Homo sapiens: one gene and its partner. Changing the gene in region 2 together with the main gene of any one other region gives a genetic interaction. Each region holds a gene or a part of one and is shown on either strand. Other genes may lie near its edges.

Region 1 (7,136 bases), on a different chromosome or scaffold from region 2:
CCTTTTATCAAAAGGGATTGTATCTAGGGCTGTGCAAAATTCAAAAGGATCAGATCCCTTTGAAAGAGTCCATAGTCCATGAAACAAAAAATTACCTGGGCCACTGGTAAGCCCCACGTGTGCCAAGATTGCCTTACAGAAATGTAAAGAGTGTGACCCACAAAGTGAGGACATTCAGCTTCACTGGAGCCAGAGGTCAGGAAGGCCCCTTGCTGAGGCCAGGCTCCCAGACCATCAAGGGAGAGGTGGCTGCACTTGCTGGAGTCACTCACTGGAGGCTGGCTCCCTTGGTCCTGCTGGAACGAGAGGTATTGCTTGTGGACGCCAACCAGGCAGTTCTGCAGGAATAGTTTAGGTTCTCAATTTGAGATGGCCAAAGAGAAGACAGAATTCTCCAGGAGAAGAGCAAGACATGGGAGACAAATACAGAATAAAGCACAAACTGATCACACAACAGAAAAGGAGGAGTGTACAGGGTCTGGGAATCAAGACTGCAGGTTGACATTATCTACCAGCCAGAAGCAAAAAGACACAGAGGGATCAAGTCCATCTGCTGGTCTGCCTCTCACCCCTGGCCAGGGACTGGAGGTGGATGTGGGCCCATCCCGGGAGGGCTGCCAGACCCAGTGGGGCAGACTGGAATGCCTTTTCCTGCTGTTCCCACCACCTGATGCCCTATAGCTCGAAAAACCACTGAAGTCTAGTGTGCGACTTTGAAAGATTGTAATATATGCTCTGGAAAACATTCAGCAGTACGAAAGCCCTCCCTGGGCCCTCCCACCCTCTCATGGTCCACAACTGGTAGAAAGGTCCAGAAATCCTTGAGCTCTGGAAAGGTCCCTGGTCAGTCCTTGGGGAGCTCAGATAGCTATATTGGAAGAACCTGCTCAAGTACGGTTCTTGATGTCTGGGGAATCCTTTCGGGGAAGATCACTTCAAACTCAATAATGAGGTCCCCACGTTTCTCGGGTGTTTTGGGGAGGGGGAGGCCTTCTCCAGGAACTTTTCGCCGCATGCCAGGCCTGATAACATCTTTGAATACGACGGGTATCGTCCTGCCGTCCAGAGTGGGGACGTTCACTGTGCAGCCACACAGAGCCTTGAAAAGCAAAAGGACAGCATTAGATGGAAGCTGGCTCAAGAGGCTCAGCTCTTGCCCAGAGGCCGTCTGCCATAGATAAGACCCATCAGGCCTCTGCAGCTAAGACCTGGCCCCCAAATCTACACGTCCCCACCACGAAAGCTCCACAACAGCGCCCTGGTCAGTCCTGTTCACTGTTGTGCCCCAAGCCTGGCACGCACCACACACCCCAACACATTGGTTCAGCAAATACTAAACTGCTTCAAAAAGCAGCCATCGCCCTCTACAGACACCGCCCCACCTGGCACCTTACCTCCCGGAGGCTGATCCTGGCAGGATAAATGACATCAGAGCCATCTCTCTTAAAGATATTGTGGGGCTTGTCCTTTAAAACAAAGACGATATCAGCTGGAATGTTGTTGGAGGTCTGGTCTCCTTCCTTGGGGAAAGTGATTTTGGTTCCTTCTTTCCACCCCTTCTTCACTTCGATGGTCAATATTTTGTCTTCGTTTCGAATGCTCTTTCCGTCGGGGTTTAGCCGCTTGTGGGAGATTTTCATCTTCTTGGTACAGCCGCTGTAGATCTCTTCAAGGGAGACTCGAAGGTCGTGGGTGACTGGGGGATCTTGCTTCTTTCGGGCGGGCTCTTGGGCAGAGCGGGAGCGGCCAAAGTTCACGTTGGTGAAGCCACCCATGCCCATAGGGAAGCCAGAGAATGGGTCATCAATGTCCATGCCTTCCTCCCCGTTCCGCTGCCCAAAAAAGGTGTCAAAGGGATTTCTGCCACCGAAGAACTCAGCAAACATGGCATGAGGGTCTCCATGGAATGTGTAGCTGAAAGAGGTACCATTGGCACCACCGCCGCTACCGCCACTGGGGCCACTCCCCTTTAGGCCTGAAAAGCAGATTTAGAAGCAGTCAGATGGCTGAACAGCAGACTCTCTCTCGAGCTTCCCTTACAGGGGGAAACAGCTTGGAAGCCATGGGGGAGGAACTTTTTTGTCTGTCAGGGGAGAGCAAGGAAGAACCCCAAGTTTCTACCTCTCACTGCCAACAGCAGAGACGCCCCCCTACCAACAGTATTTCCGCGTAGCCTGACAGTGGAAAAGGACTCATGCGGTTAGGTGTTCACCTCCAGGTGCCACCTAGGCCCTGCCACTCCTGGACTGACCCATCCTCCTGGCAACATCACCAAGAGATGGCTAAAGACACATGGTCCAGGGTCGGCTTTCGGTAAGTGTTTACTCTCAACGTTTTAGGGCTAATGGTGCGTAGGAAGAGAAGAAAAAAAAAAACAAAAATAAATAGGGAGTTTTTAAATCCTCACACATTAGCATTCACTGCCACCATCCTTGCACAAAAAGTCAGCTCCAGATCAAGCCCAGAAGCCAGCCTGAATCATCAACGGGCACAGGAACAAAAAGCCCTGCTCTCCTTACCCTCCGAGGCGGCCCCGCTCTCCGGACCTGGGCGGCCGCTGCCTCCTGCGTGCCCTGCCGGGGCCAGGTCATCACTTCCCGGGAATTATCCCAACCCAGCCCCCAAGCCCACGAACGGGGTCGGCTCCTGCATTCACAACCCCTCGCCCCGCAGCTGAGCCGGAGGCGCCGCCCCGCGGACCCCGGCGGCCGAGCCCAGGTGAGCCCGGGTCCGCAGCGGGCTCCGCCGCGCCGTCCCCGTCGTCACCCCCGGCTCCCCCACCCCCATGCACCGCACCCCGGGGCTGCTCGGGGCCGCGGGAGGAGGCGCCCGGGGAGGGGCAGCCCCAGACATGCTAGAAGCTTCTGGCCGAGCGGCTGGGCCAAGGCTCCTCCTCCCACCGCGCGGCCGCCAATCCGAGGGCGGAGGCCCGCGAGGCCGGAGGGCGGGGCAGCTCGGCCCCACGGCCCGGGGCGTCCTTCCCGGGGGGCCGCCGAGAGGGGCCAGCGTGCCTCAGTTTCCCTGTCTGTCAAAAGGCGGGGCCGCGCCCCTGGCCGCGAGCACACACCTTCCTCCCCGTAGCGGTCGAAGATCTCGCGCTTGCGCGGGTCGCTGAGCACGTCGTAGGCCTCAGCGATCTCCTTGAACTTCTCCTCGGCGCCGGGCTCCTTGTTCTTGTCCGGGTGGTAGCGCAGCGCCTGGCGGCGGTAGGCCCGCTTGATCTCCTCGTCCGACGCGCCGCGGGCCAGGCCCAACGTCTGGTAGTAGTCTTTACCCATGACCCCCTCCTGCGGCCCGCCGACCCGCTGTCGCCGTCCCCCGGCTCCGCCGCCGACCAGTCCCGGACTCTATATACCCGTCCGGCGGAAGCTTCCAGAGCCCGCCAGCCCCCTCCAGAACCTTCCGCCCCGCCCGCCCCCGCGGCGCCGGCCAATCGCCGCCGCCCTTTCAGCGACACGCGACATCCGGGGCGGGGCCTCGCCGTCAACGGCCGCCCGCGCGGGGCCACGCCCCCTCCCGCTCCGCCCTCGGCAACACCTCCCCGCGGCGCGCGCGCACAGGTCGGAGGAGGCCCCGCCCACCTTTCGGGACGAGCCAATCGCGACCTTCTTTCCCTCTCTACGCGGCCCCAGCTACCCTGCGTCCCGCCCTCCGCCTGGGTCAGTAGGTCGGGACCCACAGCGAACTTGCTGTTCCAGGAAGGGGTGGGGCCTGGGACTACCCAGTCCTTTCCCCGGGAGGCGATGAACCTGCTCGCCCTTGTCTCGTGGGGCCTGCGGTGGGCTCCCGCCCGGTGACGCCGGACGAACTACCTAACCTGTGTCTGCCTAACCCAGGGGCCCCCTTCTATCTACAACATGGCAATAAGAGAACCTATCAGGCCGGGCGCGGAGCCTCATGCCTGTAATCCCATCACTTCCTGAGGCCAAGACAGGAGGATCTCTTGAGCCTAGGAGTTGGAGACCAGCCTAGGCAACATAAGGAGACTCCGTTTCTATTTAAGATTAACAAACAGGCCGGGCGCGGTGGCTCACGCCTGTAATCCCAGCATTTTGGGAGGCCGAGGCGGGCGGATCACTTGAGGTCAGGAGTTCGAGACCAGCCTGGCCAACATGGTGAAACCCCATCTCTGCTAAAAATATAAAAATTACCCGGGCGTTGGTGGCACGAACCTGTAATCCCAGCTACTCAGGAGATTGAGGCCTGAGAATAGCTTGAATCGGGGAGGCGGAGGTTGCAGTGAGCCGAGATCCGGCCGTTGCACTCCAGCCTCGGCAACAGAGCGAGACTCCGTCTCATAAATAAATAAAATAAGTAAAATAAAGTAAAATGAACAAAAAACCCACCAGCGCTATTCTCCCAACCGTGGGGAGAAGGATTTTGGGACGGAAGACTGCCTCTGTTCTCACCTCCTAAAGCAAGGTGAGGATCTGGACGGAAGCGCATCTCCCAAGGTCCTCCCAGTCCCGCCTTCTTCCCTTTACTGCCCTCTCAAGATCACTTGCCGCTAAATTTGAAATTTATCTTGTCTCTTGGCTTTCAATGTGTCTTCCCTCCCAGTCTGACATCGCCACCTGGGCAGGGGCCAGGTCCTGTCTGCACTGGGTCCCCAGTGCCTGGAACGCAGTGAGAACCTCATAAATATTCCCCGTTCTTACACACGTGCTTCTTTTTCTTCCCCAACTACCTTTATAATTTGGGGGGACATAGGTGTGTCACACACCTTTCAAGGCCTCTGTTTCCTCAATTGTAGGCAACACGATCGCGTTTGGCTCTGAAAGTCTGGGGTGCCTCTGTCAAGGACAGAGCTGATGGGAAAAGGAGGCTCAGAAAGGGGTTCCACCTGGGAAGGGCCCAGGGAAGTGGGGGAGGTTCCTGGAAGAACTGCCTGGGAGGTCAGAGCCATGTAACACTGGCTCTGGAACCAGACAGCTGGGCTTCATTCCCAGCTCCAGCATTTCCCGGCTGGGTAACCTTGGGTTAGTTACTAGGCCTTTGCTGGCCTTAGCTTCCTCATCTGCACAATGAGGAATGAGGATAGCAGTTGTGCCCACATCATGAGGGCTTTGAAGTTTATATGAGTCAACATTTGCAAAGTGCTCAGAGCAGGCATGGCACAAAGGAAGCATTGTCAAAGGGGTGACTAACCATTTTCTTAGTGGTGGGCTCTTCAGCCATCACCTCATTCCTGGCAGCTAAAAGATTCCAGTGACAGCTGCCCCTGGGCAGACAGGGACTCCTGAAGAAGAAGACCATCCTCCTGCCTCCTGAGGCGGGAGGATCTCTTGAGCCCAGGAATTTGAGGCTGCAGGCAGCTATGATTGTGCCACTGCACTCCAGCCTGGGTGACAGTGAGACCCTCAGCCTCCCCATAAAAAAGTTACATAAATAACTATCAGGAGCATCATGGCGGATAGTTACATAAATAACTATCAGGAGCATCCAGCAGGCAGATCTGGTTCTCTTGGCCCACTCAATGATCTCTGAGGTAACTGCATCAGCAAGAACTCTGGACTAGAACTGGACAACCCGGGAGGATGGGGCTGAAATTCCCTAGACATCGAGAACCATACTTGAGCAGGGGTCCTGAAGCAATTATGGGGAGAGAGAACTTGATATTTTTTAAAAAGTTACTAGGCTGGGCACAGTGGCTCACGCCTGTCATCCCAGCATTCTGGGAAGGTGAGGTGGGAGGATCTTTTGAGGCCAGGAGTTCCAGCCTGGGCAACATAGTGAGACCCCATCTATACAAAAAATTAAAAATAAAAAAAATTAGCCGGGTGCAATGATGTGAGCCTGTAGTCCCAGCTACTCAGTGGACCAAGGTAGGAGGATAGCTTGAGCCCAGGAATTTGAGGCTGCAGTCAGCTATGATTGTGCCACTGCTCTCCAGCCTGGATGACAGTGAGATCCTGAACCTCCCCATAAAAAAATTATATAAATAACTATCAGGAGCATTATGGGGAAAAACTCAGAGCTTGTGACTTTATAAACTAGTATTTTATAATATAAATTTAATTTAGAATTACAAGTGCAGCAGCCTCCAAAGGCTTTAACATGGCTCTGGGTGGGCCTTTCTGGTTGTTCTAAAGTTTCTTGCCATAGGCCAGGCACGGTGACTCAACGCCTATAATCCCAGCACTTTGGGAGGCTGAGGCAGGTGGATCACCTGAGGTCAGGAGTTCGAGACCAGTCTGGCCAACGTGGTGAAACCCCGTCTCTACTAAAAATACAAAAATTAGTCGGGTGCGGTGGCAGGTGCCTGTAATCCCAGCTACGCTGGAGGCTGAGGCATGAGACTCGCTTCAACCCGAGAGGCAGAGGTTGCAGTGAGCCAAGATCGTGCCACTGTGCTCCAGACTGGGTGACAGAGTGAGAGTTTCAAAATAATAATAATAATAATAATAATAATAATAATAAAAGTTTCTTGACACACTGGAGGGGAACATTTTGCTAAAAACACTGCGGAAGGGATGTCTTTGTGCTTGGGGTCAGTGTTAGAGCTGGGAACTCTCCCCTCCTTGAGTAAGCCTGGGTCATGTTCAGGAAGTTTTGTTTGTTTGTTTTGAGATGGAGTTTCACTCTTGTAGCCCAGGCTGGAGTGCAGTGGCACGATCTCAGCTCACTGCAACCTCCGCCTCCTGGGTTCAAGTGATTCTCCTGCCTTAGCCTCCCAAGTAGCTAGGACTACAGGTGCTTGCGACCATGCCTGGCTAATTTTTGTAGTTTTAGTAGAGATGGGGTTTCACCATGTTGGCCAGGCTGGTCTTGAACTCCTGACCTCAGGTGATCAACACGCCTTGATCTCCCAAGGTGCTGGGATTACAGGCGTGAGCCACCACGCCCAGCCAGTTCGGGAAGTTTTAATTTTTTTTTTTTTAATCAGTTCTAGGAGCCAGGAAATTAAACAAACAAACAAACCCAGTAACTCTCTCCTAATGGACATGGTACTGTGACCTGAACACTCACTGAGAACTTCAGAATATTACTGAAAAAATGGCCTCTGCGTCAACTTCAGCAGATATTGGGCTCTTAACTTGGAAAAGCTGTTATAGTTGTTTGTTGTGTCAGCGTGGCTAAGCTCTAGAACCTAGTTATTCAACTAAACACTAATCTAGGTGTTGCTGTGAAGTTAT
Region 2 (8,040 bases):
ACTCATGAGGCTGAGGCAGAGAATTGCTTGAACCTGGGAGGCGGAGGTTGCAGTGAGCCAAGATCGTGCCACTGCACTCCAGCCTGGGCGACAGAGTGAGACTGTCTCAAAAAACAAACAAACAAACAACAACAAAAAAACCCCCCAAATAACCTCAACCTTAGGTTATTTAGAAGAGAAGGGGAGATAATTTTTTTTTTTTGAGACGGAGTCTCATTCTGTCACCTAGGCTGGAGTGCAGTGGCGCAATCTCCCCTCTCTGCAACCTCTGCCTCCCGGGTTCAAGTGATTCTCCTGCCTCAGCCTCCCGAGTAGCTGGGATTACAGATGTGAGCCACCATGTCCAGCCTGGGGAGATAAATTAAATGACATTTAAAAAATTTTTTTTGAGACGGTGTCTCGCTCTGCTGCCAGGCCAGAGAGCAGTGGCACGATCTCAGCTTACTGCAATCTCCACCTCCCGGTTCAAGCAATTCTCCTGCCTCAGCCTCCCAAATAACTGAGACTACAGGCGCGAACCACCACGCCTGGCTAATTTTTGAATTTTTAGTAGAGACAGGGTTTCACCATGTTGGCTAGGGTGGTCTTGAACTTCGGACCTCAGGTGATCTGCTTGCCTCAGCCTCCCAAAGTGCTGGGATTACAGGTGTGAGCCATTGCACCGAGCCTGACATTTTAAATTTGAGTAAATATTAATCTATACCCACTGGCTGAAGAAACAGCATACTAAAAACCCCGAGTTTACATTATCAATTTTTTTTTTTTTTGAGACGAAGTCTTGCTCTGTCACAGGTTGGAGTGTAGCGGCGCGACCTCAGCTTAAAGTAATCTCCGCCTCCCAGGTTCAAGCGATTCTCCTGCCTCAGCCTCCAGACTAGCTGGGACTACAGGCCCCCGCCACCACGCCAATTTTTGTTTTCGTTTTTTTTTGTTTTGAGACGGAGTTTCGCTCTTGTTGCCCAGGCTGGAGTGCAATGGCACAATCTCTGCTCACTGCAACCTCTGCCTCCCGGTTCAAGCGATTCTCCTGCGTCTGCCTCCTGAGTAGCTAGTATTACAGGCACCCACCACCACATCCAGAGATTTTGTGTTTTTGATAGAGATGGGGTTTCATCATGTTGGCCAGGCTCATCTCAAACTCCTGATCTCAGGTGATCCACCTGCCTCGGCCTCCCAAAGTGCTGGGATTACAGGCATGAGTCACCGTGCCTAGCCCTAAAGTTTTCCTAGACATGTAAAAGGGTGTCTTGCATACTGACCAAATTTGATGGACTTTGTTGCAATACCAAGTTATAATAAAAGGAACACACAGACAGATCGACTACTAACAGCACACTACTTCAAAATGCTGAAATTAGGTATTTCCTTGGCACACTTCTTAAACTTCATGCTTCCTTTTCTTAGATTTAGAACATCATTGATAAGAGGCAGAGAGAAGGATAAGACCAGAACCTCGAAATTGTAATTGGAACTGCACTAATTCAAGATTTGGCTACTCCAACTGTTTGCTCATTTAAGGGAAAAAATGAACTCAGATTTGCTGAATGAATGATGTAACACCAAAAGGACAATGATCAAATCCAAACACTGAAGCACTTCAGAAGAATCTATTTACAACAATGATTTATGTACAAAACATTCTTAGTGATTCCTGAAATTTATCATCAACTTGGCAAAGTTTATTCAGATATTTTTTAAATACATTGTTTTCTCTTTTAAAATGATCTACAATCCCCAGTTTCCATAAATTTAGACTCGTGGTCTTCCAAACTTGTCTAACACTGAAGTTCAAGGAAATACTTAAGTTTCAGGAGACATTCTGCCACCAAAAGAGGCTAAGATCCATGGATGAGACACACACCTGAACACACTTCAGCATGATTACAAAAACCAAATGGTAACAAACCTTTTGGATAGTTGACAACATACACCAGATTTCCCCAGCCAGCATCTGGGGCATGCAGAATTCCTTCTACCAGCCGGACACCTCTCATACACTGAGACACTGGATTCCTGTAGCGAAGCCCACACGCCCCTGGAAACTGGGCTGTAACCGTGGAGAGCAGCACCGTCCCATCGTCTTCCGATGGTATTTCAATGGGCTCATCGTTCTCATCTTCGGTTACCCGAATATATTCAGACATCTTTTACTTTTCCTAAAGAGAAAAGAGATATGAATGAACAACATTCATGTCAGAATAACTGTTTCCTTATAATGATAATACCCAAACCATGTCAGAGTTCTGACTTCCAGAAAAATGCTTGTCTGGATTCGTATATGCATTGGTTATCCCTGAAAAATGACGAGGTGAAGGTAAGGGTAGTGATTTCCTATCAAAATGTGATGCCTCGCCAGTTCATTCATTCAAAAAACTTTCCCTGAAGGCTTATGATGCGTCAGGTACTGAAACTGTAACTGTGAGTCCAACGTGGCTTGCTGGTTACAAGCTAGGGTATGCAAGGGAACAATAAACAGTAGCTATTTTATGACAATCGGGTTAGTCGTTAAGTAATCCTGAAGGCAGAGGAGGAGCCTAACTGGCTGAGGCATGGGCGTGATAGGTCCCAGTCGATTTTCCTAAGCAAGCGATCCATCAGCTGAACCTGAAGACTGAATATGGGCAGTGAACCAGGTGTAAAGAACAGGAGAAAAGTTTCCCTCTGTTCCTCATTTTGGGGCTTCCGGGGGCTCTGCGAGCCCGAGCCCCAAGGCCCGCGGCGACAGGTCCTGGCGGTGCCGGCCGTCGCCTCCCAGAAGCCCGCGCGTGCCAGCCGAGGGAGGAGTTTCTCGGCGCGGCCCGGGGTGGGGCGCAGGAGCACCAGGCCCAAGCTGGCAGCGTCCCTCGAAGTACAAAGTACCGAAGGCTCCGGCACTGTCCGGGTCCGGGGCCAACCTCCGCCTCAGGCTACGCGGCACCGCGGGCCCGGCCCCCCGTTTCGGCGCCACCGGCCTCCCCGTGCCAGGACCTAACGACGCTCCCGCGCGAGCCCGCTCGGGCAGGACTAGGCCCGGTCTCACGGCTGACTTCCCGGGGCAGGGTCCGAAGCCGCTGCGTCTGCCTCGGGCCGCCCCAATGCAGAAGCCGAGGCACCTACGGCGTCCTCAGTGAGAAGGCTCCGCGACTCACCCGCTAGGCCGCTGCTGGGAAGCCCGACAGGGACACCGAAGCAGCGACGGACCCAAGCGCAGCCCAGCCACCGCTTCGCTCCCACAAAATGGCGCTAGGGCCGCCTCCTCCCCCCGCCCACCGGCGTCCTCTCCCACCGGTTGCCTGTCCAGAGGTGGAAGGCACCGACGAGAGCCACGATGACCCTCTCCCCAGGGACTCGGGCTGCCTCCTGGAAATTCAAGCCTACAGAGAAGCTCTGAAAGCTAAAATAAAACCAGGACCTAGGCCTGAAAAGCTGAAGATTGAAAAAAGTGTGGCTGTATAGGAGCTGACCTCCCCCCACGTAACGTAGCAGATGGTTTCGGCCGACCAACCGCCGGCCCAGGTCTCGGTCGGAGCTCGCGCACTTTCAAAGCGCGCGAGAGTAGCACAGAGTCTCGGCCAGCGAGGGCGGGGCGGGGCGGGGCCTGGAGGGGGCGGGGCTCGGGATCCCGGGCCGAGTCCACCTGGGAGGCAGGATAAGGCCTGGACCCCTTTTCTGAAAGGCAACCTAGTGCGTCTTCTCCTCCCTCCGCCAGCCCACCTCCAAACCTGGAAACAATAACTTTGTTCTAAATAATAGCAATGATAAGGCTACTTTGTGCCAGGTACTTTCTGAGTATTCACATATTTAATAGCCCAAACAGTTTTGTGTAGCAGGAGCTATTGATATTCATTCTGCGGGTGAGGAAACTGAGGCACAGAGAGATCAAGTGTCTTGCTTAAAGTGACGCAAGGATTAGCCGGGCGGTAGTGGCGCGCGCCTGTAGTCCCATCTACTCGGGAGCCTGAAGCAGGAGAATTGCTTGAACGCGGTAGGCGGAGGTTGCGGTGAGCCGAGATCGCGCCACTTCACTCCAGTCTAGGCGACAGAGTGAGACCCTGTCCTCCAGCCCCTCCCCCCAAAAAAATGTCACCCAAGGAATAAATGGTAGACCTGGGATTTGAATCTCGAGGCACAAAATGCTAACTTGTTCTGGCTCCAGCCCTTTAATAATAATAATAATACAGTACTTCATCTATTTTAAGGCACACTTTTTGTTTCACTTTTTTTTTTTTTTTTTTTGAGACGGAGTCTCGCTCTTGTCCCCCAGGCTGGAGTGCAGTGGCGCAATCTGCAGCTCACTGCCACTTCCAACTCCTAGGTTCAAGGGATAGCTGGGATTATAGGCGTGCAAAGACACCATGCCCGGCTAATTTTTGTATTTTTAGTAGAGACAGGGTTTGGCCATGTTGGCCAGGCTGATCTCGAACTCATGGCCTCAAGTGATCCGCCTGCCTCAGCTCCCCAAAGTGCTGGGATTACAGGCACGAGCCACCTTTCTTTTCTATCTTTTCTTTCCTTTCTTTCCTTTCCTTCCCTTCCTTTCCTCCCTTCCCTCCCTTTCCCCCCCTTCCCTCCCTTCCCACCTTCCTTCCTCCCTACCTCTCTCTCTTTCTCTCTCTCTCTCTTTCTTTTCTCTTCCTTTTTTTCAGACTCCCTCTGTTGCCTAAGGTGGAGTGCAGTGGCACAATCTCAGCTCACTGCAACCTCCGCCTCCCCGGTTCAAGCAATTCTCCTGCCTCAGCCTCCTGAGTAGTTGGGTCTACAGGCATGCACCACCATGCCCGGCTAATTTTTGTATTTTTAACCCCTGTTGGCCAGGCTGGTCTCAAACTCCTGACCTCAGGTGATCCGCCCACCTCGGCCTCCCAAAGTGCCACCACGCCCGGCCTTTGTTTCACATTTCTTTTTTTTTTCTTTTTTCTTTTTTTTGAGATGGAGTCTCGCTCTTTTGCCCAGGCTGGACTGCAGTGGCGCTATCTCGGCTCACTGCACGCTCCGCCTCCCGGGTTCACTCTATTCTCCTGCCTCAGCCTACTGAGTAGCTGGGACCACAGGCGCCCGCCACCACGCCCGGCTAATTTTTTTGTGTTTTTAATAGAGACGGGGTTTCACCGTGTTAGCCAGGATGGTCTCAATCTCCTGACCTCGTGATCCGCCCGCCTCGGCCTCCCAAAGTGCTGGGATTACAGGCGTGAGCCACCGCGACCGGCCAATGTTTCACATTGCTGAAGTCAGTATGTGATTTCAGTTCCAGTTCCAGTTGATGATGATGTGTCATAGTTTAACTGGCAACTATTTATGTTTCTTTGTATATACATGTATCACACTCAATGAAATACAGTTACAAGTGTTTACACAAAATACTTTATTTATTTATTTAAGATGGGGTCTCACTCTGTCACCCAGGCTAGAGTGCAGTGCAGTGACCTCGGCTCACTGCAACCTCTAACTCCAGGGGTCAAACGATCCTCTCACCTTAGCCTCCGGAGTAGCTTGGACCACAGGTGCACACCACCACACTCAGCCAATTTTTTATATTTTTTGTAGAGACAGGGTCTTGACATGTTACCCAAGCTGGCCTCCAACTCCTGAGCTCAAGCGATCCATCTGCCTCAGCCTCCCAAAGTGCTGGGATTACAGGCGTGAGCCACCATACCCAGCAGAGAAGTCGGTTTTATCACTCCCATTTTACAGAAGAAAAACCTGAGGCTCAGAGACCATATGACAGGCCTGAGGTCATACAGTTGCTCAAGGATGTCACCTAGCCCATAAATTGCTGTCCCAGGTTGGTCAGACCCTAAACCTCTGCACTATGTCCACCACACTGGCCACTTTCTGTCACAAGACTGAGACCGAGGTATTTAGTGCGGGTAGTGCTGTGGAGTCCTGGACACTAGCTCCAAGTGGGCAGAGCTGGGTATGCAGAAGTTCCTAGAGACAGGTCACACAGGAACATGACCCCAAAGGCTGGCCCTTCTCCTAAGAAGTTTTCAGGCTAGTTGGGAGGACAAGCAAACACTGTCTCAAAGAAGGTAAGTAACTCAGGAAGATAATTATAAGGCCAGAGGGAGACTGGACCACAGATCTTCCTGCTCCTATCTCAGTTGTCTCTGGGATTCAGCTTTACAGCACTGATTGTCAAAAGTTGTTTGAAACACAACATTTTTTTTTTTCAAGACAGAGTCTTGCTCTGTCGCCCAGGCTGGAGTGCAGTGGCACAATCTTAGCTCACTGCAACCTCTGCCTCCCGGGTTCAAGCTATTTTCCTGCCTCAGCCTCCCAAGTAGCTAGGACTGCAGGCGTGTACCACCCCACCTGGCTAATTTTTGTATTTTTCGTAGAGACGAGGTTTCACCATGTTGGCCAGGCTAGTCTCCAACTCCTGACCTCAAGCAATCCTCCCGCCTCAGCCTCCCAAAGTACTGGGATTACAGGCATGAGCCACTGTGCCTGGCCCAGGCCCTGGTTTTCAACTGGGTCACTTGGGGACTTACCTTCTCCCCTTCCATCAACCCCCTTGAATTCTCCCAGCTCATCAGCTCCATGAGGCAAACAGGACACAGCTCCACAACATTCCTGAAAACTGAAAGAAGCCTGGGCGCGGTGGCTCACGCCTGTAATCCCAGCACTTTGGGAGGCCGAGGTGGGTGGATCACCAGAGGTCAGGAGTTCAAGGCCAACATTGTGAAACCCCGTCTCTACTAAAAATACAAAAAATTAGCAGGGCATTGTGGCAGGCACCTGCAATCGCAGCTACTCCAGAGGCTGAGACAGGAGAATCGCTTGAACCCGGGAGGCAGAGGTTGCAGTGAGCCAAGATCACACCATTGCACTCCAGCCTGGGCAACAAGAGTGAAACTCTGTCTCAAAAGAAAAAAAAAAAAAAGACAAAACTGAAAGAAATACTAGGGCAATAATGATACATAGATTTATTTATTTATTTATTTATTTTTTGAGACGGAGTCTTGCTCTGTCACCCAGGCTGGAGTGCAGTGGCCCAATCTCGGCTCACTGCAAGCTCCACCTCCCGGGTTCACGCCATTCTCCTGCCTCAGCCTCCCAAGTAGCTGGGACTACAGGTGCCCGCCACCACGCCCGGCTAATTTTTTGTATTTTTAGTAGAGACGGGGTTTCACCGTGTCTCAGTCTCCTGAGCTCGTGATCTGCCCGCCTCCGCCTCCCAAAGTGCTGGGATTACAGGCGTGAGCCACTGTGCCCGGCCCTATTTATTTATTTATTTATTTATTTATTTATTTATTTATGTAGGTGTGCACCACCACATCTGGCTAATTAAAAAAACTTTTTTGTAAAGACAGGGTCTCATTATGTTGCCTAGGCTGGTTATGAATTCCTTGCCTCAAGTGATCCTTTCACCTTGGCATTCCCACATGCTAGAATTACAGGCACATACCACCACCCAGCCAATAAAGATATTTAAATAAAAGTAACTTTAGGGCCGGGAGTGGTGGCTCACACCTGTAATCCCAGCACTTTGGGAGGCCGAGGCGGGCGGATCATGTGAGGTCGGGTTCAGCCTGACCAACATGGAGAAACCCTGTCTCTACTAAAAATACAAAATTAGCCGGGCGTGGTGGCGCATGCCTCTAATCTCAGCTACTTGGGAGGCTGAAGCAGGAGAATCACTTGAAACCAGGAGGCGGAGGTTGCAGTGAACCAAGACTGAGACATTGTACCCCAGCCTGGGCAACAAGAGCGAAACTCCATCTCAAAAAAAAAAAAGTAGCTTTAGGCTAGGCACAGTAGCTCACACCTGTAATCCCAGCACTTTGGGAAGCCGAGGCAGACAGATCACTTGAGCCCAGGAGTTCGAGACCAGCCTGGGCAACATGGTGAAACCCCATCTCTACAAAAAATGCAAAATTTAGCCGGACCTGGAGATGTACACCTGTGGTTACAGGTACTGGAGAGGCTGTGGTGGGAGGATCACTTGAGCCCAGGTGGCAGAGGTTGCAGTGAGCCAAGCTGTTGCACTCCAGCCTGGGCGACAAAGCAAGTAATAAAGTAATAAAGTAATAAAAATCTTTATTGTATCAAGATTAATTT

The links.
Region 1: of TARDBP (region 2) and DNAJB1, changing one suppresses a phenotype caused by changing the other (phenotypic suppression), as found in Homo sapiens cells (one study listed by BioGRID).

The regions. Positions count from the first base shown.
Region 1 is NC_000019.10:14,515,072-14,522,207, forward strand, and holds the start of DNAJB1 (dnaJ homolog subfamily B member 1), read right to left. Parts: upstream 3,327-7,136; 5' UTR 3,279-3,326; coding exon 3,068-3,278; intron 2,867-3,067; exon of another isoform or gene 2,520-2,866; intron 1,976-2,519; coding exon 1,395-1,975; intron 1,100-1,394; coding exon 869-1,099; 3' UTR 1-868. UniProt on the Homo sapiens protein: Interacts with HSP70 and can stimulate its ATPase activity. Stimulates the association between HSC70 and HIP. Negatively regulates heat shock-induced HSF1 transcriptional activity during the attenuation and recovery phase period of the heat shock response.
Region 2 is NC_000001.11:11,007,832-11,015,871, reverse strand, and holds the start of TARDBP (TAR DNA-binding protein 43), read right to left. Parts: upstream 3,219-8,040; 5' UTR 3,129-3,218; intron 2,157-3,128; 5' UTR 2,145-2,156; coding exon 1,907-2,144; intron 1-1,906. UniProt on the Homo sapiens protein: RNA-binding protein that is involved in various steps of RNA biogenesis and processing.